4 linked regions of the Homo sapiens genome follow. The protein of the gene in region 2 interacts with the protein of the main gene of each other region in a pairwise test. Each region holds a gene or a part of one and is shown on either strand. Other genes may lie near its edges.

The links.
Region 1: the proteins of C14orf39 (region 2) and HPGDS interact in binary tests that used the Homo sapiens proteins (3 or more experiments, as listed by UniProt).
Region 3: the proteins of C14orf39 (region 2) and MT1X interact in binary tests that used the Homo sapiens proteins (3 or more experiments, as listed by UniProt).
Region 4: the proteins of C14orf39 (region 2) and TEAD2 interact in binary tests that used the Homo sapiens proteins (3 or more experiments, as listed by UniProt).

What each region holds. Positions count from the first base shown.
Region 1 is NC_000004.12:94,339,443-94,348,165, forward strand, and holds the start of HPGDS (hematopoietic prostaglandin D synthase), read right to left. Parts: upstream 3,395-8,723; 5' UTR 3,353-3,394; intron 1-3,352. UniProt on the Homo sapiens protein: Bifunctional enzyme which catalyzes both the conversion of PGH2 to PGD2, a prostaglandin involved in smooth muscle contraction/relaxation and a potent inhibitor of platelet aggregation, and the conjugation of glutathione with a wide range of aryl halides and organic isothiocyanates.
Region 2 is NC_000014.9:60,435,096-60,441,539, forward strand, and holds the end of C14orf39 (protein SIX6OS1), read right to left. Parts: intron 1,953-6,444; coding exon 1,750-1,952; 3' UTR 861-1,749; downstream 1-860. UniProt on the Homo sapiens protein: Meiotic protein that localizes to the central element of the synaptonemal complex and is required for chromosome synapsis during meiotic recombination. Required for the appropriate processing of intermediate recombination nodules before crossover formation.
Region 3 is NC_000016.10:56,677,814-56,684,696, forward strand, and holds MT1X (metallothionein-1X), read left to right. Parts: upstream 1-4,656; 5' UTR 4,657-4,727; coding exon 4,728-4,755; intron 4,756-5,351; coding exon 5,352-5,417; intron 5,418-6,144; coding exon 6,145-6,236; 3' UTR 6,237-6,383; downstream 6,384-6,883. UniProt on the Homo sapiens protein: Metallothioneins have a high content of cysteine residues that bind various heavy metals; these proteins are transcriptionally regulated by both heavy metals and glucocorticoids. May be involved in FAM168A anti-apoptotic signaling.
Region 4 is NC_000019.10:49,345,085-49,352,920, forward strand, and holds part of TEAD2 (transcriptional enhancer factor TEF-4), read right to left. Parts: intron 6,282-7,836; coding exon 6,217-6,281; intron 3,976-6,216; coding exon of another isoform or gene 3,873-3,975; intron 3,762-3,872; coding exon 3,619-3,761; intron 2,280-3,618; coding exon 2,106-2,279; intron 1-2,105. UniProt on the Homo sapiens protein: Transcription factor which plays a key role in the Hippo signaling pathway, a pathway involved in organ size control and tumor suppression by restricting proliferation and promoting apoptosis.

The sequences.
Region 1 (8,723 bases), on a different chromosome or scaffold from region 2:
ATAGATAAAAAGCTCATTTAGAATTCTGTTTGAAAAATAACCTATACGGTTTATCAAAGAACACATAAACGACTAATAAATACCCTGGATAAAAACTTAGACATATAAACTCATATGAACATAGCTATCCACTGCAGAAGATTTAACTTTTAATATTAATATATGCATTAGGAAATAAGCTCTTTTATATGGGAAATAACAGTGTTTTTAAAGTACTATCTTGGGTACTTCCTTTCTTTCTCTTTCTTTCTTGTAGCTTTTTTTTACTTTATAGAATGCTTGTTATGGTTTGGCTATATCCCCACCAGAATCTCATCTTGAATTGTAGCTCCCATAATTCCCACTTGTCATGGGAGGGACCCGGTGGGAGATAATTGAATCATGGGGGCGGTTTCCCCCATACTGACTTCATGGTAGTAAATAAGTCTCACGAGATCTGATCATTTTATAAGGGATTTCCCCTTTAACTTGGCTCTGGTTCTGTCTTGCCTGCTGCCATGTAAGACATCCCTTCCTCTTCCGCTATGATGGTGAGGTCTCCCCAGCCATGTGGAACTGCAGTGCAGTGGCGCAATCTGGGCTCACTGAAATCTCCGCCTCCTGGGTTCAAGCGATTATCCTGCCTCAGTCTCCCAAGTAGCTAGGATTATAGGTGTGCGCCACCACATACAGCTAATTTTTGTATTTTATTTTTTAGTGGAGATGGGGTTTCACCATGTTGGCCAGGATGGTCTCGATCATCTGACCTTGTGATCCGCCTGCCTGGGCCTCCCAAAGTGCTGGGATTACAGGTGTGAGCCACTGTGCCTGGTCTAAACCTTTCTTTCTTTCTTTCTTTCTTTCTTTCTTTCTTTCTTTCTTTCTTTCTCTTTTTTTTTTTTTTTTTTTTTTTTTTTTTTTTTTTTTTTTTTTTTGAGACGGAGTCTCTCTCTGTCGCCCAGGCTGGAGTGCAGTGGCGTGATCTCCACTCACTGCAAGCTCCACCTCCCGGGTTCACGCCATTCTCCTGCCTCAGCTTCCCGAGTAGCTGGGACTACAGGCACGCGCCACCACGCCCAGCTAATTTTTTTGTATATTTAATAGAGATGGGGTTTCCCCGTGTTAGCCGGGGTGGTCTCGATCTCCTGACCTCGTGATCCGCCTGCCTCAGCCTCCCAAAGTGCTGGGTTTACAGGGGTGAGCCACCGGGCCCGGCCCGCCCCCCTCCCTTTTTTTTTTTTTTTTTTTTTTTTTGAGACGGAGTTTTACTCTTGTCGCCCAGCCTGGAGTGCAATGGCGTGATCTCGTCTCACCGCAGCCTCTGCCTCCCGGGTTCAAGCGATTCTCCTGCCGCAGCCACCAGAGTAGCTGGGATTACAGGCACCAACCACCACGCCCGGCAAATTTTTTTCTTTTTTTTTTTCTTTCTTTTTTTTTTTTTGAGACGGAGTCTTGCTCTGTCGCCCAGGCTGGAGTGCAGTGGCGCAATCTCGGCTCACTGCAGCATCCGCCTCCCGGGTTCAAGCGATTCTCCCTGCCTCAGCCTCCCCAGTAGCTGGGATTACAGACGCCCACCACCGCGCCCAGCTAATTTTTGTATTTTTAGTAGAGACGTGGTTTCGCCATGTTGGCCAGGACCTCCTAACCTCAGGTGATCCGCCAGCCTCGGCCTCCCAAAATGTTGGGATTACAGGCTGAGCCACCTCGCCCGGCCAAACTTTTTTTTCTTTATAAATTACCCAGTCTCAGGTATGTCTTAATCAGCAGCGTGAAAACTAACTAATACAATGCTGATTTATTTCATCTGATTAATTCAATCCCAGAGGCAATTTTAACATAATCATTGAAAAAATTACAAACTTTTATAATAAAACAATTTAACAATATATTATTCCGTATACTGCTGTAAAAGCACAGTAAAAAATAGTCTCAAAAATTCTAGTCTCTGTGCCAGAAAGATGACAACAATCCAATTTCAACTCTCTGACAACACAGGCTAATCAATATCCAATGCCTATACTAAACATCTTAATAAAGACTTCAGCCGAAATATTTTTAGTTCAAAAAAGAGAACTTTTGGAATAATTTTGTTAGATAGAAAACTTACAAATGAGGAATTAAGTATTGACCATTCTACAGTTCAATACAAAATGTTAGCCAACGTAAGCTCTTACTCTTAAATACGACACATCAAGAATTCAAACATATTTGGGCATTCCAGACACAGTTTTTTACATGCTTAGTAATTGCGCAATAATCTGAGTTAGAGATATAAAAACAAAGATTACTTGTGAATTTGCTATAGCTCTTCTTTGAGTTTAAGATGCAGATCTTAACTTGCCCAGTAATAAACTTATACAAAATGTAATGGCCTAGAGCATGTTTACACTCCTATTATATAGACCCTGGTGTTCTGAAATGTAAAAATTGGATTCAGACAGCAATCATGTGAGATACTATTGTTCACAGGGGAACTTCTTGCATATACTGACATTAAAACAGCTTTTTATTACCCCTAACATTTGATGGTAAAGAATGTTAATTTCCCTCATTTCACAGTGTCCCTGGGCATTTCAAGTTCAATTCTGGAAAAGTTGCCAGGTTGGAGTTAAATTATAGGACAATAGAGAAATAGAAGAATTGTTGTTGACTGAGTAAGATATTGATTTCAATCAAGCACTGGATGTTTAACTTTGAATTAGCAAGCTGAAAGCTCTATTTTTTTTTTTTTTATCAAATATCAACTAAATGTCATTTTAAGTGACTGTTTCACATTAAAGCCAAAGCAAGAGGAATAACTGAAATATCCTTTGGGAGCTGTGAGTTGAAATTCCTGGCCTGGGGTAAATCCCTTAAACCATCTCTGAAGCCAAAAGATGATAGGTTGCAATTCTTATCAAAACATGGAGATGCTTCAACAAAATGTGCCTTAAAATAATATAAAATATTACCAGTAAAAGTCTTAAACTTTAAAGCAAAGGAAAGAAATTGAACAGCCATGAGATAATATTCTCTACTCCATCAATCCAAGTTATTGAAGAATCACTTGGGAAAATTCTGGAAGTAGTAACAAACCCTGATTAAGACAGGATTTTTCCTCTAGCATTGATTATATTTTCTATGTTAAAATCCACTTGAAGAGATCTTCTTAAATCTCCTGTACCTATATTTCCTTAAAAATGACTATTTGAGTTTCACATATTCGCATATATGGAGAGGTTCTGGGTAAGACAAGGTCAGAGTGAGCACCATCATGAAAATAGCTCACAAGACAGTTAGTCACAAACAGGATATGAGAATAATAAAAACTCTGAAGTAAAGAGTAAAGCATATCTCATTTATTACCTATGTGGAGTTCAGTAATATGACTTACCTGTGTTATGTCTCTCGGGAGTCTGCAGTGTCTTGTATCCCTGGGTATGTGACTGTGCCTTGGGTTTATATGACGAGTAAGTGATAATCACGAGCCAGTGAGAGGACAGGCAACTTCCTTCTACCTAACGCTCTTCCTTCTTTTCTTAGATAAAACATGCATGCCAGGCAGTTCAAGCCTGCGAAGACTGCTGGTTATACAGGATATCTGGGTATAAATAAACCAACACATTTGTATACAAGGTAAAGTCAAAGTTATAGCTGCATATGTATGCCCACTGTTACATGTTCACTTATTTTCAGTTTTACACCATAGGCTCCTGGAGAATAAGAAAACCTGAATGTAATGAAATCATCTTTGCAGATGTGCACATGACTTGCTTCTCTATTTTAGAAACAGTCTCTCCTGTACCTGCTGTATGTTCCTTCGAGGCAGTGTCTAACAATGTGGTGTATTTAACTTGTTTGTTTTTGGTTTCTCCCAGTGGAATGTAAGCTCTGTAAAGGCAGGCACTTCACTGTCTTTTTCACTATTGTCTCCTCAGTTCTAAGAGGAGTGCCAGGCATGTCATGACCACTAATATACATCTGATGATAGAATAACCCTAATTTATAGTTCACGTTTTTGCAAGGACTGTAAATTTGCATTGTTGCTGGTTTATTTCATTTACTCTCATTTCTCAGAAAAGCCAAAGTGTTTAAAGTAAACCTGGTGTAGAAGTTTCCAATTCATCTTGTTTGTGATCCTTTTACAATTTAGTAACAAATGCCTGACATTTTAGAAATTTATTGTTTCACTTCTTAGTGCAGGAATTATTTTTATCTATAATATTAGGACAGCTCAGTGAAAAGATCCAATAAAATGCCTGCCTGGGCCTTACTGAGCCTGAGGATTATCCATGAAACATTTCAATGACCAGCTGGCTTTCAACTTCCAGAAAATTACTCCCACAGGCAACAATAGCAACATATCAATCATTTAATATTTCTTATTTCTAAAGTGCTTTTAATTTTGAAAAATATGTTTACATCCACTTAGTATAAACGTCAGAAATGAAAATAAATGTAAATACTAGTATGTAAAAAGAGAAGACGCAAGTGTAGCCCTTTACCCACCAAAAAAGGATACATGTGTGTCAAAATCAAGTGCAAATGGGATGGGAGTGGGAGCTATACAAAATTAACACAATGCATTTATTATCTTTGACAGCTTTAACTTATATTTTCAAAAAAATCTTTTTATCCTCACCTCAATGATTTTTAATCCCTATTTTTATAAATGAGGAAACTGAGACATAGGGAAATTAGGTAAATTGCCTGCGAATTTTTGTTGGGACAAGCTAGGATTAAAATCTAGGCCTTCTGATGACACATTTAATATTTTTCCTTACATAATGCTGCCTATATATAATACGAGACTGCTTCAGTTAAAAAAAAATCAAGTATACAAAAAATAACACTTTTCTCATTTTGTATTACAATTTTATCTTTTACGACCAGTTGTTTTGGCTGGAGGAAAGCAGAGTAACACATCAAGGATTGGGGAAGGAGCAGCCACTTGATCCTTGGTCACCGATCAACAGAGGCTGCTCTAGAGGCATCCATTGTCCTTGTGTGCATGGCCTCCACGCCAGGAGCTCTCTGCAGCTCCTGTAGCATTCTCATTTTGCTACCTTCTTGCCCCAGTGTGGTGGTTTCATCACAACGCTGCCTGAGATTCCACCTGCCCAGTACCCAACAGAGCCACTTCTTCTCTGTGGTCTTTCTACCTCCCTGGAGGCACAAGAGGGTCCCAGGAGAGGGTCCCAGATCTCCTCTACTCGGGAAGCACAGCTTTCCCATCCTCTTGTCTCTTCTCCCAGCCCAGGTGGGGGTGCTCTAACTCTCCTAGTCTTCTACCAGCTGTGGGCCTTTGGGCAGGTAACTTAATCTCTCTGTGCCTGAGCTCCTTCACCTTTAGATGGAGATTGATTCTACAATAAATATTTATTTGTTCCTAATCTTTGCCAGGTATTGTTCTGAACGCTAGAGATATAGCAGTAAATAAGGCTGGGCGCGGTGGCTCACTCCTGTAATCCCAGCACTTTGGGAGGCCGAGGCAGGTGGATCACAAGGTCAGGAGATGGAGACCATCCTGGTCAACATGGTGAAACTCCATCTCTACTAAAAATACAAAAATCAGCCAGGTGTGGTGGCCCACGCCTGTAATCCCAGCTACGCGGGAGTGTGAGGCAGGAGAATCGCTTGAACCCGGGAGGCAGAGATTGCAGTGAGCCGAGAGCGTGCCACTACACTCCAGCCTGGCGACAGAGCGAGACTCCATCTCAAAAATAAATAAGTAAATAAATAGAGATATAGCACTAAATAAAATCAGACAAAAACAAATCTTCATGGAGCATTCTAACAATATTAGTAATAACTCTCTCATAAGCTTTTACAGAATTAAATGAGTACACAGATATGTGCTTCAAAGTGTGCCTAATGCATAGTTAGGGATCCATGAGTGAGAGCAATTGTTAATATTATTAGCAGTTCACCTGAAGGGAAAATCGTTTCCCTTCAAGAATCTATGCTCAAGAATTCTTTCCTTTTCTGTGGTTGGGTTTGGGCACTAACAGCAGAAAGAGAAGTAGCTGTCAGGCAACTTTCATTTTTCACCCTGCTTCATCCTCTTCTGAGGAAATGAGCACGGAGCCAAGTGTCTACTGGAATAGGGAGGAGGAAAAGGGCAAGGGCAAAGTGAAAACCCCTCATGGATTGTTACCTCTCAGTTCCCTGCTCTCCAGGGCAGTGACTTCTTCATGCCACACACCCTTCAGGAGCATGTTGTGGATCCAGACTGGACTGCATGAGAAATACCCGTGAAAAAACGTGTCAAGTTGTATGATCATGTCCACACAGTCATTTAAAGGCCTATTATAATTTAATAAATATGTCTTCATTTTCTCTGGGGCTTCCTAGTTGGAAAACTTTTAATCCTGTGGTATTGAATTAGCAAATTCCTAACTGCTGTTAAAAATCCAACGTTAAATCATAGTCCATTTCTGTCCTTGTTTTCTTTATTTGCCCACCTGTGTAGTAATGTGACTATACAAGATAGTGATTAAAGAGTTTCATCCTGGAATCATGACCTCTTAGAGGAATCTCCACTCCATTATTTGCAAGCTCTGGGACTTTAGGCAGCTGCCTTAGTTTCCTTATCTGTAAAATGGTGATGATAAAAATCATTCTACTCAGAGTTGAAAGGATTCAATGAGTTTGTGCATTTAAGTCACTTAGTGCCTTGCTTAGCAAGCAGTTGCTCGATAAGTAATGGAAAAACACATACAATTTTTAAAACGTGGCCCACATATTTGTTCCTCTTTATTTATTTTTGTAAAAGAGAAGTGTTCAAACAAACCTATTTCTCCTTTTCTAGCTTGTCTGTTGATGGGGAAGGGGAGAAGTATCCAGGAGAAGCCCACAAAACTTCCTTTGCTCAGATTCTAGAGTGGTCTGGTTTACTTTTGTATATTTTATTTAATAAAACAGTTTTCCTTTTTATAGTTAGTTATTTGAAAAACTAAAAACATGTAAAAGTGACGTATTTAAACCTGGGGTTGAAAATACAGGAAATAAAGAATATGTTTTTCTGCTTCTAACCTACTTGAGTAATTGAAACATGCCTGCAAATATTTTAGTGTCTGTGTTTTCCCAGATTTCAATAATGATAATGCTATTATCTGAAGTCTGCCTCTTCAGATACTGTGAAGAATGATATGGTAATTATATCCAAGATTATGAGCAAATCTTTCACTACCTAGCCTTTTGGCTAAAAGAGGATTCCTATATGTAGGCAAATAATAGTAATAGAAATAGCTAAAATTCATTAAGTATTTCCTGTGGGCCAAGCATTGAACCAAGCACTTGTCTTGTATTACCTCATTGAATGCCTACAAAACAACATCACAAATAGTGCATGCACCCTTGAGTGTAATTGCATAACTGACTGGGCCTTGTCATGAAAGCATTTATAGATAGAAAATTTCTCAGACATTTGAATCTCATTCACAAGATTTTATGTTTTTTCTTCTGTCAAGAATGAAGAAAATAAGCATTAAGTTAATTTGTTTTTCAAGGTTTTTTCAGAATCAATTAATGTCACCTCTGTACCATTACAACTTGTGCTGTAGGAGGAAGGACTGTGCAGTAAGTCCCACCTTTGCCTGTGCCCTGTCCTGTGTTCCCCAAAAGAGTCATGTCTCCTCTCTGAACCTCAGTTCTTGGAAAAGAAAAGAGATGTCCTGGTGACCTCTGAAGTCACTTCCTACTCTATTATTTCATGACAGAATTTTCCCCCTGAAGACATTTCTCTGTCTTACATGATAATTGAATGAAAACTAAGTCCAAAAAGGCACAGAGCTCATGGGCTGAGAGTTACAGGTACACAAGTTACCTTTGTCCCCAAGTCTAGCAAGAAAGGCAAAATTCTCAGATCAAAGGAAGGCCACCCATTCTGATAATCCCAGGTCACAGGATGGACTTACTATTTATAGGTACTAAGAAAATGCAAACAAAAGTGTAATTTAGAGAGAATTTTTTTTTTTTTGGTGAGATTAAAGTGTCTTCCTAGCAGTTATCAAGAAGAGGCAACCAAAATATACCTATTAAAGGAATTTGTATATTTGGAATTTTCTTATATCTCAAAAACAGATTAATCTGAAGAGGTGTGTTTTCCTCATGAAGTCTAGAAAAAGGAAATTTTGGAGAATAAGAAGGTGTCAGAAAATTTCTAGGACTCCACAGAGGACTAATAATAGCAAACACGGACATTTGAGTTTATCGTGTACCTGGTACTCACTCAAGATTTTAATTTGCCAAGGTCTCAAACCTAGCAAGCAGAAGATCCAATATTTGAACCCAGTAGTCAGCCTTCAGAGTCTTTGCGATTAATTACTGCATGAGATTGACTCCAAAATATAGAATACTAGAGTGAAAGAAAAGAAACAAGTTACAATCATTTGCTGACATTTTCTCAGGATTATCCAACTTTCTTTGGCCTAACTGTAAGTATCAAGCAAATTTCAGACCTAAATTCTTTCTCCTAAGCAGGTTTTTGCTCACCATTTTATTCTGAAAGTTGGTTTTGCATCATTCTGAGCAAACTATCACAAAGACAGAAAACCAAACACTGCATGTTCTCACTCACAGATGGGAATTGAACAATGAGAACACTTGGACACAGAGCGGGGAACATCACACACTGGGGCCTGTCGTGGGGTGGGGGAATGGGGGAGGGATAGCATTAGGAGAAATACCTAATGTAAATGATGAGTTAATGGGTGCAGCACACCAACATGGCCCATGTATACCTATGTAACAAACCTGCACGT
Region 2 (6,444 bases):
TAAGACCACGTCTGTGTTCTAGCCTTTTATATGCTGTCAAAATGCCATGTGCAAGGTAGATACTTTTAAAATACTTATTTCATATCACTTATTGATACATGATAAATCTAACCATACTGGTCTGCTAGACATTACTCTAAAGTAAAAATAAATCATGGAATCACTGAATCATTCAAGGCTAAAACTAGTTTTGAATTTATCAATAAACAAACAAATTATAACTTTTTCTTCTGTCTCATATATAGCCAATGTCTTTATTATATAAAAACTACCAATCAATTCAGTCATAGAGTCAATAAGATAAATACCTGTTAAAAAACGAAAAAAAAAATCCAGCTTTTTAACTGAAATTTTCACCTTTTAAGCAGTTGTTGAATGTTTGATGGTTTTTTTTTTAACAGAGTCTAAAATTTTCTTAAACTCTATCATTAGTTAGATTGCCCTTCTTTTTAAGTCTTCGAGACAGCTTAATGTAATACAACTGTGATAATTTGTAGACACCCTGAAGAAGCAGTATAGACCCTTACCCAAAATTTGATTTGCATATTGAAACTGATGATGCCACACATCCCAATAGGGCATGAAAAGATTTTTCTAGTCATATATTAAGGCCTTCTGGGGAGAGCGGGGCAGGCCTCCTGAACTGAAAAATAGCTTGAGAAGTAGAGAAAGAAGACTGGCTTTGGGTTTTTATGGTAGTTAGGGGGTGGGCTGGGTGGGGGCTCCCATATGTGGTTTGAACTTCCTACTGGCACCAAAGGAGGGAGCAACCAGGCTTTCTGATCAGCTTGGCCAAATGTGGGCAGAATGAGAAAAGAAGGGGTTAGGTTTAAAAATCCATCAACAGTCACATCAAAATATGGAGTCAAACCCTTTATTACTTGGTAACTCAGTACAGCTAATTTACAAAGCACAAAATACAATGATATTGAGCAAAATGTTTACAGAAGTTCATCAAATCTTAAATATCTTCACTTAAGCTATATAATTAATTGACAAATACTGAACACAAAACATAAAGAAGAAATTTTTGTTATTGAAGGAGACAAAATTGTAAATGTTCTTCAAAAAATATTTAAGCAAAAAAGAATATTAACAGGATCACCACTGATACAACAATCCAATTTTCAGAAATTACTCTTGCCCTTTACATTTAATTTTTAGCCATTGAAAGCATTAGCATAACTCATAAAATTAGAATTGTACCATGTGTTATATTAGAAGAAAATAACACAGATTTTGTTATTAACATAAATTATTTGAAATTATTATTACAGTACCACTCTGTATACTACATAGTGAAGCAGAAGTGAAACCCAATAATTTTAATAGAAATTTTTAGTAGCTAAAGTACGCTTCAGCACTAACTCTGGAGTTACTACTGCAGTTCTTGTTCTTATCAAAGTACCAACAATACTTCCAGAAAAAAACCTTAGGTTCCAAGGAGAAGCAGGCTTAATATTTAAATAAAGAGTAATGAAAAAAGCATCAAATTCTATTAAGATTAATAAAAGTTCTACCTGACCACGGCTCGCAAAATCAAAACCAAAATAAATAATGATTAGTTAATAGCACACACAAAACCCAAAATATTCAGTATTTCAATATTTCAATAAATATAATCAAATAATGTAAACATTACTGCTTTAATCAATAAAAGAAAGCAGTCTTCATGTTTTAAGCAATAATGTAAATTTATGCCCTCATGAACACAGAACAGTAAAATAATTTAAGGAATTAATGACTAGCTCAAAAAAAAGTAAACTGTGTTGTATTTTGTGAGGAAGATGAAAAACCTTTTAAAGAAGAAGAAGGTATTGAATTTTGACCCTGTCCAAATGAAAATGGAAAACTAAAATCATCTTTTCCAGCTCCAAATGTATGAGTTGAAGTGTCTGATGGAAAAGAAAATGTAAAGCCATCTTCTCCTTCTGGCTTCTCAAGTAAGTTTCCTAAGGAAGATAAACATTACAATATCATGCTCTTCATATTATATAAAATTTTTATAACCTACTGAATTATAGCATACTGCATACAATAAATATGGTAACACTGAATCAGTGTTACACAGGAATACAGGTATTTAATTGTATTCCTCTTAAGTGCAAGGCATTGTCCTTGGTACTATGAAGGTTAAAACAGACTCAAACTTAAACCCTGTTTTCAAGTAATTTGAACTCTAGTATATAAAGAACTAGTATAAAAAGTAAAAAGTAGAATAAAACACCTCAAATGAAGAGACTGATACAGAGGCACAGAAACAGACATGCATAGGATGCATTAGAGTAACAGAAATCTATTCAGCTTAGCAGGAGCAGTGAGAAATAATAAAGATGTATTAAGTGGAAATTAATGAAGATGAGCTTGGAAAGATTGCTGAATATCCCACTATGGAATCTGGACTTTATTTAGTAGATAACAAGAATTCATTGAAGATTTTCAAGCAGAGATATGACATGATTTGAACTGCTTTGTAAGTATTACTCAGGAGAGAATAGGTATAAAGGCTGGAACAGGAGAGTCTAGAAGTGGGACTAACCAAAATAAAATAAAAGTCTATTGTCCAGTGAAGACATAATGAAATGTTGACCTTAGGTACAATCATAGTGATGGTAATGGAGGAAAAAATGCTGAATCTAAGAGATACTGTATAAGTTAAACTTATTCAACTATTATTTATTGAGTCACTACAATATACTGCTCATGGCATTGTTCAAGGAAACTGACAGAACATTAAAAAGAGTTCTAAAAGGAATTTTTAAAATAAGCTTTAAATGTAGCTCTGGTTGATGAAGCCCAGAATTGCCATTAAGGAAAAATACTGTTTTTCACTTATTATATTACTTATTAATAAAATTATAAATATACAAATATATTTTCAACATCCTAATTCTAATTTAAAATTAATTATCATTAAATAATTTTAAGTCTATAGTAATCAAATATGTACTTGAAACAAGTCTTTTTAAATATCTATTTTTATATAGAATTAATCAAATAGCATATTAAGCAAAATAATTTGCATCACTTTGAATGTTTCATAAATTTTTTAACTTTCATATATTTAATAACTTTATTTTTATTTTTAAACATCTCAATTATTTCACCCTAAATAGAACCAAGTCAACCAGCAGTAAGATGGGTGGATGGATGGATGGACAGACAGATGGATAGATGGACAGACTGACTACCAGATACTTGTGTTCTTCCCCTCTCCCTTTCTCACTTTATTTTTTTGACTATGTGTATTTCTCAGTACACAGCCATATGACTTAAAGAAAAATAGGTATAATGTAAACACGGATCCAAAAAGAGCTAAAATCTTGAATTTCCCTTTGAATAAATGAATTTGATTTTGTTTTTAATTTCACAAGAAGTTCATATGAAGTCTTCATAAAACTCATATGATCACTGTAAATAAAAGAACACATTACTGTGCAAGGCAGCATTATAGGTGCTATGGGGAATTCAAAGGTACATTTTAAAATCCTTGTCCTCAAAAAACCTGTGATCTAGAGGAGATTTTATATCTATTTATAAATAATGATGGTAGAATGGTAAAAAGTATAAAAAAGAAGAGATATTCAGAAAAGAGAGGGAGAGATCTTTTTGAAAAAGAAGATTGAGGGGATAAATAAAAGGTTTTATGGAAGAGAATTCTATCTCGAAAGATAGAAAGAGATAGAAGTTGGGGATTGCAAGAAGTAAAAAGCAGGTAAGAAAGTGTGGGCATACTTGAGACACACTGAGTTCCAGAGTCTGGCCAAAGCACAGGTTACCCTTATAAGATAAAAGCCTTAAAAGGTATGTTGGGGGATGAATAGAGACTGGTTAATGAGTATAAAAATACAGTTAGACAGAAGGAATAAGTTCTAGTACGGAATTTAAGAATAAGTTCTAGAGTAGTAGTATGGTTTACAAGAATTTATAGTGTATTTTGACATAGCTAGAAAAGAAGATTTGGAATATTCCCCACACAAAGAAATGATAAACGTCTGAGGTGATGGATATTCCAATTACCCTGATTTGATCATTACACATTGTATGCAGGTATCAAAATATCACATGGACCCCATAAATATGTACAACTATATACCAATAAAAAATGAAACAGGTAGTTGGAGCTAAATTAGAAAAGTAGAAGCATAATTTGATAGTCAGTGGGGGAGTCACTGAAGGTAACTGATTAGGGCAGTGACATGGCCAACATTATGGGCACTGAAGATTAATTAAGCTGTGATCTATAGGTAAGCTGAAAAATGGAAAACACCAATTAGGATGATATTGTAACAGTCCAGGTGAACAGTAAGACTGAAATATAATGGTTTCAATGAAAATAGAAAATAAAAATAAATATTTAAGAGAGAGAACTGATAAAACTTAATGACTAGTTGAATGTAGTCACAGTCACAGAGAGAAGTTAAAATTGTTACCATGCTCCAAACCTTAAAAGCCAGAATAATGGAGATACCATCAGGGACGTCAGAAGGAGAGCAAGTTTCATTTCAGCTACACTGAGTTTTTAATGTCAAAAGATGTCTAAAGAGATTTAAACTGTACAATCAGAAATAAGGTCCTAGAGTTTAGAAGTCAGTGCAGCAAGATATAAATTTGTTCATTATCTGTATGTATTATATTTGAAAACACTGAAGTGAATGAGTGTCAAATGAATGAGAATGTCAAAAAAGAGGATGTGGGCTGGGTACGGTGGCTCACGCCTGTGATCCCAGCACTTTGGGAGGCCGAGGCGGGTGGATCACCTGAGGTCAGGAATTTGAGACCAGCCTGGCCAACATAGTGAGACCCCGTCTCTACTAAAAATACAAAAAATTAGCTGGGCATGGTGCTGGGCGCCTGTAATCCCAGCTACTCGGGAGGCTGAGGCAGGAGAATTGCTTGAACCCAGGAGGCGGAGGTTGCCGTGAGCCGAGATAGTGCTATTGCACTCCAGCCTGGGCAACAAGAGCGAAACTCTGTCTCAAAAAAAAAGAGGATGTAAATAGATTTAAATTTTTAGATGGCAGACATTTAATAAATACAATTGGTAGATTCATTCTGATCTCATAGCATTAAATACCATTTATAAAAATTCCAAAATCTGTGTCTCCATCTCATTGAATTCGAAATTCATATGTACAATTTCCTACTTTACTTTCACTTACGTATCTAATAAATAGGCTTTTCAATTAAAACACTTCCTAAATGAAACCCCTGTCTCCTCAATCTCAAATTACGCTTAGAGCCTTCCATATTTCTATAAATGGCAACTCCATTCCAAGTTATTCATGTCAAAACCATGGCACAATCTTTGTTTCTCTCTCTCAATCCTTATATCCAGTCCATAAGCAAATTCTTCCAGCTCTATCTTCAGAAAACTTTGTAACCAAAATCTGACATGTTCTCACCACTTCTACTACTACTACTCATCAATTCTCACTTTGTATCATTTTATAGCTTCCTGACCTTTCCCTGCTTTTGCCCTTGTTTCCATACAGTCTGTTCTCCACATAGCAGCCAGAATAATTCTTTTAAAACCTGTCAGATCATTTCAGTCCTTTACTTAAAACCTTCCAGAGGTTTCCCATTTCACTCAGAAAAAAAACCCTAAGTCCTTAATGATCTACAGGTCCCACATGATTTGCTCTCCATCCACCTCTTGGATTTAATCTCCCACCAGTCTCTCCTTCCTTATTCCATAAATCATACCAATTTAACTAATTTTCAACGAACATACTGAGTATGTTCCCATTTCAAGACCTTTTTGCCCTTTGCTTGGAACACTTTTCCCAGTAGCTTGTATATGCACCTCCTTCTGCTCAATGTTGACTTTTAGTGATGCCTTTCCTGACTCCTTGCAATACGGCAATCACCTTCCCAATCCAAGTATTCCCTATTTCCCTTACTCTACATTACTTTGCTGCATAGTATTTATCACCAACAATAAGTAAAAAATTAACATCAAGCCTGGGAAGATTCGGGCCCACCTGGAAAATGACCTTGGAGCCTGACTTCCCACAGCACTGTTTTCACAGAATTAAGGTAAACACAGAATGTTTTATCTATCTAGTCTGCTGTGTGAGACTGCACCTGAATTAGAGGAGCTATGAGTTAGCATACAGGCCTTGGGCCTCATGACTAGAATAATATAAAAGACTGGTGTGAAATTGAAGTTACAGCTCTTGTGTTTCAAGGTGACCTACATGCAACATGCCTTTTGTCCATAGCAGCCTGACATGTTCCTTGGGTGGCAGTGGCAAAAGAAGGTGTATTACTTGGGTAGTTGGTGATCCTCTCAATGAAACAAGGATGCTGTACCTACCATTATCTCTTATCTTGTATCATTCTACAACATAAAGGTAATATTAGATTTAAAATCATAATATGTGAGTCTGACTATTCAAGCCCATAACAACTGTTGTTTAGTGTACTATCTGATAAATTATA
Region 3 (6,883 bases), on a different chromosome or scaffold from region 2:
CATTAGTACATTTGGGTTTCTAAAAATAAAATATGTTAATGATAATAAAAGTTGACTTTATTCTGGCTCAGTTTTGTTTTGTGTGCCTTGGAAAAAAGTGATCTGATACCCAACAGAGCTGGGATAAGCAATTGCATTGAGAGTCCAGACACATGGGTGCTGGTACCACGTCCTATCACCTTACACACTGAGTGCCTTAAGACAAATCACATTACCTGTCTCTGCTAAAAAATGTAAAAGCATTATACATGTAGGCCGGGCATGGTGGCTCACACCTGTAATTGCAGTACTTTGGCAGGCCAAGGTGGGCAGATTACAAAAGGCCAGAAGTTCAAGACCAGCCTGGCCAACGTGATGAAACCCCCATCTCTACTAAAAATACAAAAATTAGCCACGAGTGGCGTCGGGTGCCTGTAATCCCAGCTATTTGGGAGGCTGAAGAAGGAGAATCACTTGAACCCGGGAAGTTGTGGTTGCAATGAGCCGAGATTGCACCACTGCACTCCTGCCTGGGTAACAAGAGGGAAACTCCATTTCAAAAAAAAACCAAAAAAACAGTATACATGTAAGAGATATAATGGCATAGGCGTGGGCATCTGTAACAGACCTAAGCTTTGGGAAAATGAACTAAAATGAATTAGTATGAAATATAAAAACAAAATCTACTTTTTAATATTAAACAGGCAAATTATTAATAAATATAAATATATGAAAACAAAAAAATACATACAAAAAACAATGTATGAAAAACAAAATATATGACTATATTTAAATATATTAAAAAACAGAAAAATAAAAATTTACAGACATTGCATATATGTTCTAGGTTGCGTATTTCAGACTGGGAACAGTTTGTAGACTAACCCTCATGCGTGGATCACACACCTTCAGCAGTGCTGGCCTGGACATGTCCAAAAGGAACTATCAGTCCTGAACGGCACCATGTCACTCATGGAACTCTCGCTACCCCTGAGAGCTCCTTGTTCTGACTTGGCTCTGAATCTTTGGAAGTTTCTCCCAAGGTCAGGCTGCAGTCTCCTTCAAATTCCAGCCCTTGGTTACTTCAGGCCAGTGCAGTGAATAGGCAGGTGGAGCGAAGTGTCCAGCATCGTCCTGGCAAGCTGACTATAGATAGCAACTGGGGTTCCCAGGTGAAGTATTTTGACTCCGCCTCTGCAGGGGTGATGGCATATTCTGTACTTTGAAGGTGTGTGGTGTTCATTGAGAAGGATGAGGACTGATCATTGCTACCAACAGCTGGTACCTCCAGCTATCTGCTCAGGGAATTGTTATTCGAGGTTCAATCACAGGGAAGATGAGACAAGTGACCCAGGAGTCAAGACCTAGATGGGCTGCAGGTGCTCTTTGTGATGAGGGAATTTCAGAAGGTAGCCTGGGCCAAGTGCAGGCTTTGGTGTCAAACAACCGGGTTCACAGCCCACTTCACTCCTGACTGGCTGTGTGGCCTGCACAAGTCACTTAACCTCTCTGAGCCTCCATTTCCTCATCTGTATACAGGAGATTATATTTCCATGTAGGGATCAAATGGGACAGTGGCCTGGTACTAGTGGCCTAGGGCTTACTGAACAGTGCTATTATAATCATTTGTCCATGTGGACTTTCTAGACAGACAATCCTATTAGCTCCCATCAAGCTCCTTGGAAAAGGCCCATCTGCCTGCGGGTATTATGTGGACTGGAAGTTGGAGATGGATTTGGAGTCTTGCTGTTCTGGTCTCAAGGGCATGTGGATGACCTCCTGCACCTGCTCTCCAGGATAAGACACTGCTCCAGCATTCAGACAGAGAACAAGCCTTTCCCACCTTTCAAGTCATTTGATCTTCACACAAACCAGACACACAGTGAATGTGAAGGGTTTGGTGAGATGGTGCTGTCTTCTAGAGGAGTTGTACTGTCTTCTAAAGGAGTTAAGCAATCTTCCCAAGGTCACATAGTTTAGAAGTAAAGGCATGAATGAATCTATGCTGTGGGTGTCCTCATGCCCTCGCCATAGTGAAATATCACGCTGTCAATGGATGCTAAGCCCGGCCTCTCACATTCCAGAGCTGGAAGGGCCCATGGTTAGTTAGCCCAATTGTGACCCTGACTTGATAGCTGGTGAACTGAAGCCAGAGAGGACACACAGCTATTCAGAGGCTCTGACTGCCAGCTCAGTGCTCTTACCACTGTGCCTCTGTGCCAGAGTTAGTGTCCTCATGTGTCACACGACAGGGTGACACAGGCTTGTGGTTGAGGGCATTATTCTATGGTCAGCCTGTGTGAGTGCCAATCCCGGATGTGTCATCATGTATACCTGGGTGACACAACCTCTCTGTGGCTCAGTTCCTGCACTGTAAAAGGGGCAGAATATAATAATACATCATGTGCTGTATAAGGACGTTTTAGTTATAGATGCACTGCATATAGCATAGTGGTCCTATAAGGTTATAAGGTAACTGTACTCTACCTTTCTATGTTTAGCTATGTTTAGATACACAAATACCACTGTGTTATCATTGCCTTCAGTATTCAGTACAGTAGCATGCTGTACAGGTTTGAAGCCTAGGAGCAATAGGCCATATCACATAGCCTAGGTCTGTGGTAGGCCATAATATCTAGGTTTGTTATTGTACTCTTTACACTGTTTGCACAACATGAAATCACCCAACAATGCATTTCTTAGAATGTATTCCCATCACTAAGCAGCATATGACTGTAATGGGGTCTGACTTGTAGAAATAAATGATTTAATAGGTATAAAGAAATTAGAATGGTGCCTTGCACATGGCAAATGATCTATAATATTAACTATTATTTTGTTATTTTTATTCATGGCTGCTATGGTCTAAATGCTCGTATGCCTCCAATATTCATATGTGCAAATCTAATTTTCAGTGTGTTGGTACTGAGGTGGTGCATTTGGGAGGTGACTGAAATAAGAGGACCTAGTGCTCATGAATGGGATTAGTGCCTTAATTAGAGAGGCCTGAGGGAGCTTGTTTAACTCTTTCCACCATGTGAGGACCCAGCAAGAAAGAGACATCCGTGAGGAACGGGGCCCTCACAAGACTCCAAATATGCTGGTGCCTTGACCTTGGACTTCCATGCTTCCAGAACTGAGAGAAATATATTTTGCTGTTTTAAGTTACCCAGTCTAAGGCATCTGGTGATAGCAGCCCAAATGGACTCAGACGATAGCATAGTTGACATTTTTACTCCAGACAAAAGAGCCAGGCCTGGAGTCCCTCCCTGTGTGTCCTCTGTCTTTCTCATCAGCCACATGAGCATTGACCTGTGGTCCTGACAGTGTCCTGCACTCTGCCCACAAAATAGGGATTCACTCCAGAAATATAAAGCCATGAGCAAGATAGTCCCTGTCCCCATCACAGAAACGGAAGGATACCTGCCAGTTCTGCTACCACCTGCACCAATATGTGACTTAACGTTTTTCTTTCAAATGATTCCTATTTCCTTAGATATTTTTATATGAAAAGCAAACTCATTAGCACCACTGAAAAAAGAATCAGTTTAACTTCCAGACATAGAAGGTTGCCATCAAATTATGCTTATTCATATCCCCTCTGCATCTCTGTTTTGCTTCCAGGACTGACCTTGATGCTTGGTTTTGTTTAAAGATTTCAAGCAGTAAAGAGATGAATATATCTAGGCCAAAGGGAAGCTTCATCATTGCTTTGGGACGCTGACCGGATTCAGACCCAGCAGTGTCACTTCGCAGCCCTCTGACCCTGGGCTGGTGGCTTGAACTCCTTTTATTGTTGTTGTTCAGATTAGAATATGGGTTCATGAATAGAAGTATGTCCCTTTAGGGTTGCTGTGAGGGTTCAACGATGCAAAGTGACTAAAAAGGGCCTAACACGGATTAATGTTATGTAGAGTAATAGGAATATGGAAGGAAAAATAACCCTGTTTCTTGCATTTTAATTTAATCCGGAATCCGCATATCACCTAAAATGATCCCTTTTCTGGGAGCATTCCACATTTTCCAAACTGTCATCCTGTGGTGGGGTGCCCGGCTAGGCTATGGGGAGACCTGGAGAGTTTTATGCAAAGGAGGACCTGGGCAAATGTGCCCATTCAGCCTCTCAAGAGTGGAGAATGCAAGGACGGGGGCAGAGCCCTGTGTCTGTTCTGTCCCTAGACATAAGAGAAACGTGGCCAACAGACCGAGGTGGGGACGGGGACAGGGACCGGCAATGCAGGAAATCCGAGTGTCACATCCTCTGCCTCTCATTTGCACACTGCTCCCTCGCTATGCTCACCGCTCCCGCCGATCCAGGGACGTGATCCAGGGACTCTGGGAAATGCAAAGCTACACACAGTGGAGCGGGGGCTGGGGGTGTGTAGACCGCCGGGATTCCGAGTTTCCCGGCACGCCTAGGAGAGGGAGAGGCAGGCAATGTCAGGGAAATTGGGCAGGCAAGACGCCAGGGACGCCACGTACTGCCAGGTTCTCAACGAGGTGGAGCCAAAGGGGCAGGCCCCGCGGTGCGCCCGGCGCTGGGCTCACGGGTTGCTGCACCCGGCCCAGGATCGCGGGCGGTGCAGACTCAGCAGGGGCGGGTGCAAGGACGAGGCGGGGCCTCTGCGCCCGGCCCTCTTCCCGGACTATAAAGAGAGCCGCCGGCTTCTGGGCTCCACCACGCTTTTCATCTGTCCCGCTGCGTGTTTTCCTCTTGATCGGGAACTCCTGCTTCTCCTTGCCTCGAAATGGACCCCAACTGCTCCTGCTCGCCTGGTAAGGGACACCTAGCTCCGCGCCTTGGGATGCCCGTTTCCCAGCCACAGTACAGACTCTTCCTGGGTTTGAAGAAGTCGCATTTAAAGTTCTGAGCTGAAGGGGCTCCTTTATTTCGTTAGGTGCTTTCTTCCCGATCACGTCCCTGAGACCACTTCTCGCCTCCCTGTGCCTCTAAGTTAGAGTTGAGGGTACTGAGGCCCAAGGCTGTCCTGCTCCATGTCACCCAGTTGGTCAGGGGGCTGCTGGCTGAGCCCCAATGCTCTGACCAGGCTCTGAGCAGTCAGGGTGGATGGGAAGTGGGGGGCCATTGCCTCTTCGGAGTTCAGGACAGAAGGTTCTGGCCTCCTGTCTTAGCCTTCCTGGGCTGTGTCTGGAGCCTGGGACCTTGCTTGTGGGGTAAAAGCAACAGAACACTTGCCCTTCCCAAAATGAAGGGAGAGGAGATGGGGCTTCTCTTCCTCTCCCCTGAGTGGGAAAGGAGCTCTGGGGGCTGGTCCTTCAGCACAGAGGAGGGGTCACTGAAGCGTTATTGACCAGCTGCTGTACCTTCTGCATCTCACTCCACGCTCACTGCCTTTTTCTCTTCCTTGCAGTTGGCTCCTGTGCCTGTGCCGGCTCCTGCAAATGCAAAGAGTGCAAATGCACCTCCTGCAAGAAGAGTGAGTGCAGGGCCTTCCCTGCGAATCTGGGGGATGGGCCAAGTTAGAGCAGGGAACCCAGAGCTCTGCAGGCAGGGGCAGGCCAATGACCAGCTTCCCCAAACCCCTCCTTCAACACCTGATTCAGAATCAGACCTCAAATTGCCTTAAAAATGGGTGAGTCCCAGCCTCTTATTACCAAACTAGAAACTGAGGCCCAGAGAGGTTACCAGATAGTGTTGGGAACAAAGCTGGAATGTGAACCTAGGTCTCCTGCCTCCTGATGCAGCCTTCTTCACCCTTCTGGGTCCTGAAGCACTTAAGGCCCAGGATCTGGAAGACCCCGGGTGATTTCAAACCTAATGATCCAGTCCTTTCCTGCAGGGGTAGCCCAGAGCTTCCCTAGCCTTCCCCAGAACTGCTGTGTCAGGGATTTGCCCCCTGTCCGGCTGTGAAGACTTTCCTCATTTAAGGGTAGGTTTTGGGGAACTGGCCTCCTTTTGTTCCTGTACCCCCAATCACTACCTGTCCAGTCTTCTGTCCTGTCCCAGACTCAGGTGGGGCTGGGCAGCTTTTTCATATAAAACCCTCATCCCAAAGATCTACCAGTTCTCTTCTGACAAAGCCATGCCATCCTGAAATGATGGTCCTCTGGGGCTGGAGGCAGGGCTCGAGCCAGGCCTCTGTTGGGGCAGGGAGGTGCCTGATTGAGTCTGCTCTGACCTCTCACTCTCCCCTTCTTCTCCAGGCTGCTGCTCCTGCTGCCCTGTGGGCTGTGCCAAGTGTGCCCAGGGCTGCATCTGCAAAGGGACGTCAGACAAGTGCAGCTGCTGTGCCTGATGCCAGGACAGCTGTGCTCTCAGATGTAAATAGAGCAACCTATATAAACCTGGATTTTTTTTTTTTTTTTTTTTGTACAACCCTGACCCGTTTGCTACATCTTTTTTTCTATGAAATATGTGAATGGCAATAAATTCATCTAGACTATTCTGGCTCTGGGCACCTCATTTGTCACTGGGTATATGGCACTTGGTTCCAGTTGGATTGTAGGAAACCCAGATTGTGGGGCATTTCAGAGAGGGGACCATGGCAGTGGGGGTCTGGGTGCAAGGTTCCTGCAATCCTGCCTGGCCTTGGCTCTCCTTTGTGAACTATGGCAAACTAGGGGGTTTATTCTACCACCCTCTAGCAACGGTTAACTGGTAGTAGCTGCCCTTTTTGTGTAGCTGTGACACAGCCTATACTCACCAGCCACCTATGGTGCACCTACTGCATACACAGGCATGGGGTCCTCAGTGGTGAGGGGAACAGGGAGCTTATGGACTGCTGGGGGGAGAGAGAATTATAGAATAAGGAATCTTATAAAGGAGAAAGTACTGTGACTGAATGCACTTGGGGTGAGCCCAAATGAAGAACTCTTTCCACTGGGATCTGAGAGCTGCATTCCTGCAGAGGGCACAGCTCCAGCAAAGGTCTGGAAGTGGGGA
Region 4 (7,836 bases), on a different chromosome or scaffold from region 2:
AGGGGGTGGCTCTCCAGTCCTGGGACCTGATAAGGCCTGTCTTAAGCCCCAACAATGTCTAAGCCCTCAGCTGCACATCCCCAGAGCAGTTTCAGGCTTCTGCTTCACATGGCAGAAAGCTCCAGAACCGTGAACAGCAAGCTCCAGAACAACAACACTCCCAGCAAGAACAGTAAAGTTCAGGCCCTCAGCAGGCCTTTCCTTCCTTTCCTTCCTTCCTTCCTTCTTTCTTTCCTTCTTTCTTTTCTTTCCTTTCTTTCCTTCTTCCTTTCTTCCTTTCTTTCTTTCGGCAGGGTCTCATTCTGTCACCCAGGCTGGAGGGCAGTGGCACAATCTTGGCTCACTGCAGCCTCCACCTCCCAGGCTTAAGTGATCCTCCTGCCTCAGCCTCCACAGAAGCTAGGACCACAGGTGCGCACCACCACACCCAGCTAATTTTTTTCATTTTTTGTAGAGTTGAGGTCTCACTGTGTTGCCCAGGCTGGTGTCAAACTCTTGAACACAAGCGAAACTCTCGCCTCAGCTTCCCAAAGTGCTGGGAAGATAGGAGTGAACCACCACACCTAGCCAGGCTTTCTTCTCAGAGACTAGATCCCTCCACCACCTTTGTTACTATAAGAACTAGCACCCCCTAAACATCCAGGCAACATTTATTGAGCCCAGGCCAGGCACTGTGGCTCACACTTGTAATCCCAGCACTTTGGGAGGCCAAGGTGGGTGGATCACTTGAGGTCAGGAGTTCGAGACCAGACTGGCCAACATGGTAAAACCCTGTCTCTACTAAAAATACAAAAATTAGGCCAGGTGCAGTGGCTCATGCCTGTAATCCCAGCACTTGGAGAGGCCAAGGTGAGCGGATCACATGAGGTCAGGAGTTCAAGATCAGCCTGGCCAACATGACGAAACTCCGTCTCTACTAAAAATACAAAAATTAGCTGGGCATGGTCGTGCATGCCTGTAATCCCAGCTACTTGGGAGGCTGAGGCTGGAGAATCGCTTGAACCCAGGAGGCAGAGGTTGCAGTGAGCCGAGATCGCACCATTGCACTCCAGCCTGGGCAACAAGAGCAAAATTCCATCTCAAAAAAAAAAAAAAAAAAAACAATAAAAGAAAATAAAACACATTTATTGAACCCCTGTAGTGTTAGTCATCATACTGGACACCAAACCAAGTAGCCCTAAGAAACACGCAAGATGGGCCCTCTTAGTCCCAATCATATAAATAGCAGCTGACACCAGGCGTCTATATAGGAAGTGCTCAATAAATGATTGCTACATAAATACAGGACTTGGACGGGTGCGGTGGCTCACACCTGTAATCCCAGCACTTTGGGAGGCCAAGGTGGGCAGATCATTTGAGGCCAGGAGTTCAAGACCAGCCTGGCCAACATGGTGAAACCCCGTCTGTACTAAATATACAAAAATTAGCCAGATGTGGTGGCGGGTGCCTGTAGTCCAATCTACTGGGGAGGCTGAGGCAGGAGAATCGCTTGAATCCAGGAGGCGGAGGTTGCCGTGAGCCAAGATACAGCCACTGCACTCCAGCCTGGGTGACAGTGAGACTATGTCTCAAAAATAAATAAATAAACAAATAAATGAATACAGGACTTGGCAAAGCCACTCCATGGCTCTTTTCATCACTTCCTCAAAGCCAGACATTCTCTAGCAACAAGGTCTGGTGAAACTGATGCAAAGCATCAGTCCCCTCTTTAGAAACCAGTCTCCACAAGTCCACTGGCTACGGGGAGGGGTCTTTCCTTAGCAGCACGGCTTGGTGCAGTCAGGTGGGGCACAGGGAAGCCTGGAACATGGCAAGCCCATGCCCAGGACCCTATTAGCTACATGGCCAGGTAACTCACCGTATTAGTTACATGTGGCAATGTCTAGTGGGATCCAGGGAGGCCCAGACACCTCCAACCCACCCTGGGGGCTGGCCTCCTCGGTGTTCCTTGTTGCAAAGGGGGCTGACACTCCAAGCCATGAGGACTGACTGGTAAGTCCCAGGCTGACCTGGTAGGGCCCGCGACAGATTCTCTCAGGGCCAGAGGCCTTTGCTGGGACACCACAGGATTTGTGAGCACTTTTGATTTTGCTGTGAGAACTCACCCAGAACTTGACCAGGAAGAAGGCATGGGGGGGGCCACGATCATATAGCTCTCGGAGGCCACCCTTTTTCTCAGGGAATTTGTCGTAGATCTGCCGGACGTCCACACTCTCGAGCGGCGGCGCTCCGGGGCTGGGGCAGTGCTGGCTGATGTGCACGAACAGGTGCCTCTGGTACTGAGGAGGGTTGGCCGTGGGTGAGAAGTCGGAGGTGAGCTGGATCTCCAGCCTGTGCTGCCTGAGCCCACCAAATGCCGTCACCATCCCCACAGCTCTGGCCAGCTGTTCCACACAGTCCACCCAGCACTGGGCCTGACTGCCACCCATCGTCCCCACTCCTGCTTCTGCACCCAGTCCCCTGCAGCCCTGCAGTCCTACAGTCCCCAACTCCCTGCCACAACTCCCCCAACTCCATCCTCACTGCCTCAGCCTCACCTCAGGCCTCCCACCCTCACCCCAGCCTCCAACCTCGCCTCTCCAGTTCATCCCTCATGTGGCTCCAGACCTGCCCCTGACCCTCCCCTGGTCATGGCCCTCCCATAGCTCCCCAGCAGCCCCAGGGCAAAGCTCACACCCCCTAGGCCTGGTCCTATATAGAACAGGTGCTCATAAATGGTCAATGGATGGAAGAGTGAATGAATGGGAATCCACAGAGGTCTTGTGGTTGATGTTTTGATTGATGTTTATATGGTGTGGCAGAGACTGCTACGTGTTCACAAATCCTGGTTCCTTTACACAGTGTGAAACTACATTTCCCAGGCCGCTTTGCAGTTAGGTGTGACCACATGACTAAGTTCTGGCCAATGGGATGTGACCAGGCCTGAGAGTCGACACATCCAAGTCAGATTCCTAAAACCTCCTGCACAATCTTGACTCTCTCCCTTCCTCCATCTGCTGGCCAGATGCAGAGACTCCATCAGCAGATTCTGAAGCCTTAGAAAATGGCAGAGCCACAAAATGGAAGGAGCCTGGATCCCCAAATCACTTGAGTCCAAGGCTCCTGCTGAACCTACATTGAAATGTTACATGCAACTTATCTGGCATTCAGTCCCTAAGAGTTAGGAGCTGTTTCTTCTAACAGTCGGCCCACTCCATCCTAGCCCAGGAGAAGCTCAAGCACAGAAATAAAATCTTTTCCAAGTTCCTAGTATGCATCACAAAGCCTAGTGAACAGTAGAAACTCAAACACGTTTGATAAATGAATGAATGATGTCCTGGGGAGCTTTTCTGACCTTCCCAACTTGTCACCCTATGACCTTCCAGTTCCTTTATGCTAGTAGTTCTCAAAGTACGGTCCCCAGACCAGCTGCATCAACGCACCTGGTAGCTTATTAGAAATGCAAATTCTCAAGCCCCACATCACATCTAGCAAATCAGAAAGCAATCTCTGTTTTAAGAAGCCCTTCAGATGATTCTGATACATGCTAAAGTTTTAAAACCATGACTTTATACATTCCCTTCCTGTCACCCTCTATATTTCAAAATCCCTCAGCGACTGTACCAAAATTTCACTCACAGAATCAACTGCATCTGGCGGTTCCACGAAGGCTGAGAACTCTACCAGCTGCAACCGGGCGGTGCCCAGGCCCCGAGCCTGCCAGGCTGGGGGCGATGGGGTAGGTGGGGGCAGGGGTGAGAGGGCTTGGGGGGGCTCGTACCCTAGAGAGAGAGAAGAAAGAACAATACAAATTGCTAACATTTATGGAATATATCAGGTACTGTTGTCTCTTGCCTGCCTCCACTTAGAAGCTGAAAAAGCTAAATACTCACTTTCCCAGCCTCCCTTGCAGTTAGAAGTGGCCATGTGACACAGTCCTAGCCAATGAGACGTTAGGGGAAATCTGCTGGGGGGCTTCTGGGAAGGAGTTTCTTCCTGAATGAAAAAGACAGAACTTTGGGAGGAGAAAGCTTTTGGCCCTGGCCAAGTCCTGCTTGGGAGATTGATATGGTTTGGATATTTGTCCCCTCCAAATCTCATGTTGAAATGTGATCCCCAGCTGGGCACGGTGGCTCACACCTGTAATCCCAGCACTTTGGGAGGCCAACGCAGGTGGATCACAAGGTCAGGAGATTGAGACCGTCCTGGCTAACATGGTGAAACCCTGTCTCTACTAAAAATACAAAATATTAGCTGGGCATGGTGGCACGTGCCTGTAATCCCAGCTACTTAGGAGGCTGAGGCAGGAGAATGGCTTGAACCCAGGAGGCGGGGGTTGCAGTGAGCCGAGATTGCGCCACTGCACTCCAGACTGGGGGACAGAGCGAGACTCTGTCTCAAAAAAAAAAAAAAAAGTGTGATCCCCAAGGTTGGAGGTGGGGCCTGATGGGAAGTGCTTGGGTCATGGGGGTGGATCCCTCATGAATGTCTTGGTGCCTTCCCCATAGTAACAAGTGAATTCTCACTCTTTGAGTTGATGTGAGCTGGCTGTTTAAAGGAGCCTGGCTTCGCTCTCTTGCTCCCTCTCACCATGTGACATAGTGGCTCCCCTTCCCCTTCCACCATGGTCCTAAGCTTCCTGAGGCCCTCACCAGAAGCATAGGCTGGCAACATGCTTCCTGTACAGCCTGCAGAACTGTGAACCAAATAAACCTCTTTTCTTTATAAATCACCCAGTTTCAGGCATTCCTTTACAGCAATGCAAATGGACCAACACAGACATGATCCCTGGAGTTGCAACAGCCATCTTGGGACAATAAGACAGACATGAGAGGAACTACAGAGATTCCAGTCCTGATATTGCTAAGCCCACACGGGAACAGCCCACCTCCAGGCTTTTTGTTGCATGGATTCATAACATGAATGCTTTTACTATTTAAGGCACTTTTAATGTGGGTCTTCTGTTACTTGCAGCCAAAAGTATTCCTAATTGATAAATCTATGGAAACTAAGGGACTCCCTCTTTCACTGATGTGAGTTCTCAGGGCCATATCAGCATGGACTTCCAGAAGCCATCTTTGCTGCCAAGTAGCTGAGTCTGCCTGGGAATGAAGCCACCACAGTGGAAAGCAGATCAAAGTAATGACTGATGCCATCACTTGAGCCGCTGGATCCAGCCACGCCTGAGGCCATAATTCTGAACTGTCAGTTACTGGAACCAATAAATCAATACATTTTTCTTATTATTTTTTATTTTATTTATTTATTTATTTTGAGACAGAGTCTTGCTCTGTCGCCCAGTCTGGAGTGCAACGGTGCCACCTCGGCTCACTGCAACCTCTGCCTCCCAGGTTCAAGTGATTCTCCTGCCTCAGCCTCCCGAGTAGCTGGGATTACAGGCAAGTGCTACTGCTACCACGCCTGGCTAATTTTTGTATTTTTTAGTAGAGGTTGGGGGGGGTGGTTTCGCCATGTTGGCCAGGTTGGTCTCGAACTCCTGACCTCAGGTGATCCACCCGCCTAGGCCTCCCAAAGTGCTGGGATTACAGCTGTGAGCCACCGCACCTGCCTCTTCTTTTTTAAAATGTTGCTTCAGCTGGCTTGATTTGGATTTCTATCACTTGCAGCTGAAAGAATCTTGACTAACATACCTCCCCCATGTCTCATAAGCTAGCAAGTGGCAGAACACAAACCCAGTGTGTGGCTGCAAAGACCAAAATCTCCTAACCATCACCAGTTCCACCACTCAGCTCTCCAGCCCCTCCCGGCTCCCCCGCCCCCAACACACACACCCTGCCTCAAAGCTGGGCTTCAGTAAGAATGTATCCCCTAATTGGCCGGGTGCGGTGGCTCACACCTGTAATCCCAGCACTTTGGAAAGCCGAGGCAGGCGGATCACAATATCAAAAGATCGAGACCATCCTGGTCAACATGGTGAAACCCGATCTCTACTAAAAATACAAAAATTAGCCCGGCATGGTGGCGGGCACCTGTAATCCCAGCCACTCGGGAGGCTGAGGCAGGAGAATCACTTGAACCCAGGAGGCGGAGGTTGCAGTGAGCCGAGATCACGCCACTGCACTCCAGCCTGGCGACAGAGGGAGACTCCATCTCAAAACAAAACAAAATAAAACAAAAAAAACAATGTATCCCTCAATTGATGGAAGGTTGAAGGAAAGGCAGTAGGGGTCGAAGAGAGAGAGGGGAGACAAGGGAGGGTGGAGCGCAGGCTCTTACCTGGGAGGTCAGTAGATGGGGGAGTCAGTGACAAGGTGAACGGTGTCTGTGAGAATGGCTTCACACTGAGGGAAAAAGGAAGCCAGGGGTTAGCCAGGTAGAAAGATGCTAATGTCACCAGCAAATGTTTACTGAGAGGCCACAACAAGCAAGACCCTGTGCATTTTGTGCACAATCTCACTGAAGCCTCACAGTGCGTGAGGTAGGTAGAATGACTGCTCTTTTCATTGCACAAATGAGGACAACTGAGGTATAGAGGGGTCAACTGACCTGCCCAAAGTCACACAGTTGAGATGCAGCAGAGCTGGGACTTGAACCCAGGTCAGTCTCAGCCCGGTATCTCAGGCTCTTGATGATGACATTTTGGTATCTCTCACAAAATGTCAGAAAGAGAAGAGAAACCAGCCTGGCGTGGTGGCTCACACCTGTAATCCCAGCACTTCAGGAGGTTGAGGCGGGCAGATCACTTGAGGTCAGGAGTTCGAGACCAGCCTGGCCAACATGGTGAAATCCCATCTCTACTAAAAATACAAAAATTAGCAGAGTGTGGTGGTGCGCGCCTGTAATCCGAGCTATTCAGGGGGCTGGGCCAGGAGAACTGCTTGAACCCGGGAGGCAGATGTTGCAGTGAGCCGAGATTACGCCATTATACTCCTGGGTGACAGAGCAAGACTCCATTTCAAAAAAAAAATAAAAAGAAAGAGGAGAGAAGAGAAACCAAGTCTTGGAAGGCAGGGAGAAGACGCAGAAGACAAGGAATTTGGAGGAAGAAGAGGCTGAGGGGTTGGGAGGGTGGGAAGAAAATGACCAACACTCAGGAGATGGGACAGGAGGCCAAAGTCGGGGTGGGGAGGCAGCACTGGCCAATAGAACTTTCCAGGGATGGAAATGTTCTATTGGATGGAAATCTGTGCCATCCAATACGGTACCCAGTGCCCACATGTGGCTACTGACCACAGACCACGTGGCCACTGAGCACAAGTGTGGCTCATGGACCTGAGAAACAGAATCTTTAATTTTATTTAATTTTAATTTAAATAGCTGCATGAGGCTAGTGGCTACAGTATCAGTCACAGCCCTAGTAGCCCAAGAGATAGTGGTGAAGAGACTTAGATGTCAGAGGTCAGACCAGGCGCAGTCGCTCACGCCTGTATTCCCACCACTTTGGGAGGCCAAGGCAGGAAGATCGCTTGAGCCCAGGAGTTTGAGACCAGCCTGGGCAACACAGCAAGACCCCAGCTCTATTTTTTTTTGAGACAGAGTTTTGCTCTTGTTGCCCAGGCCGGACTGCAATGGCGTGATCTTGGCTCACCGCAACCTCCGCCTCCTGCATTCAAGCGATTCTCCTGCCTCAGCCTTCCAAGTAGCTAGGATTATTACAGGCTGTGCCACCACACCCAGCTAATTTTGTATTTTTTTAGTAGAGACGGGGTTTCACTGTGTTGGTCAGGCTGGTCTCGAACTCCTGACCTCAAATGATCCACCCACCTCGGTCTCCCAAAGTGCTGGGATTACAGGCATGAGCCACTATGCCTGGCCTCCTTTTCTTATTAATTCTTTGTTTATATGTTTATTGTCTGTCTCCTCCCCCGCCCACCAAATATATGAAGCTCCGTGAAG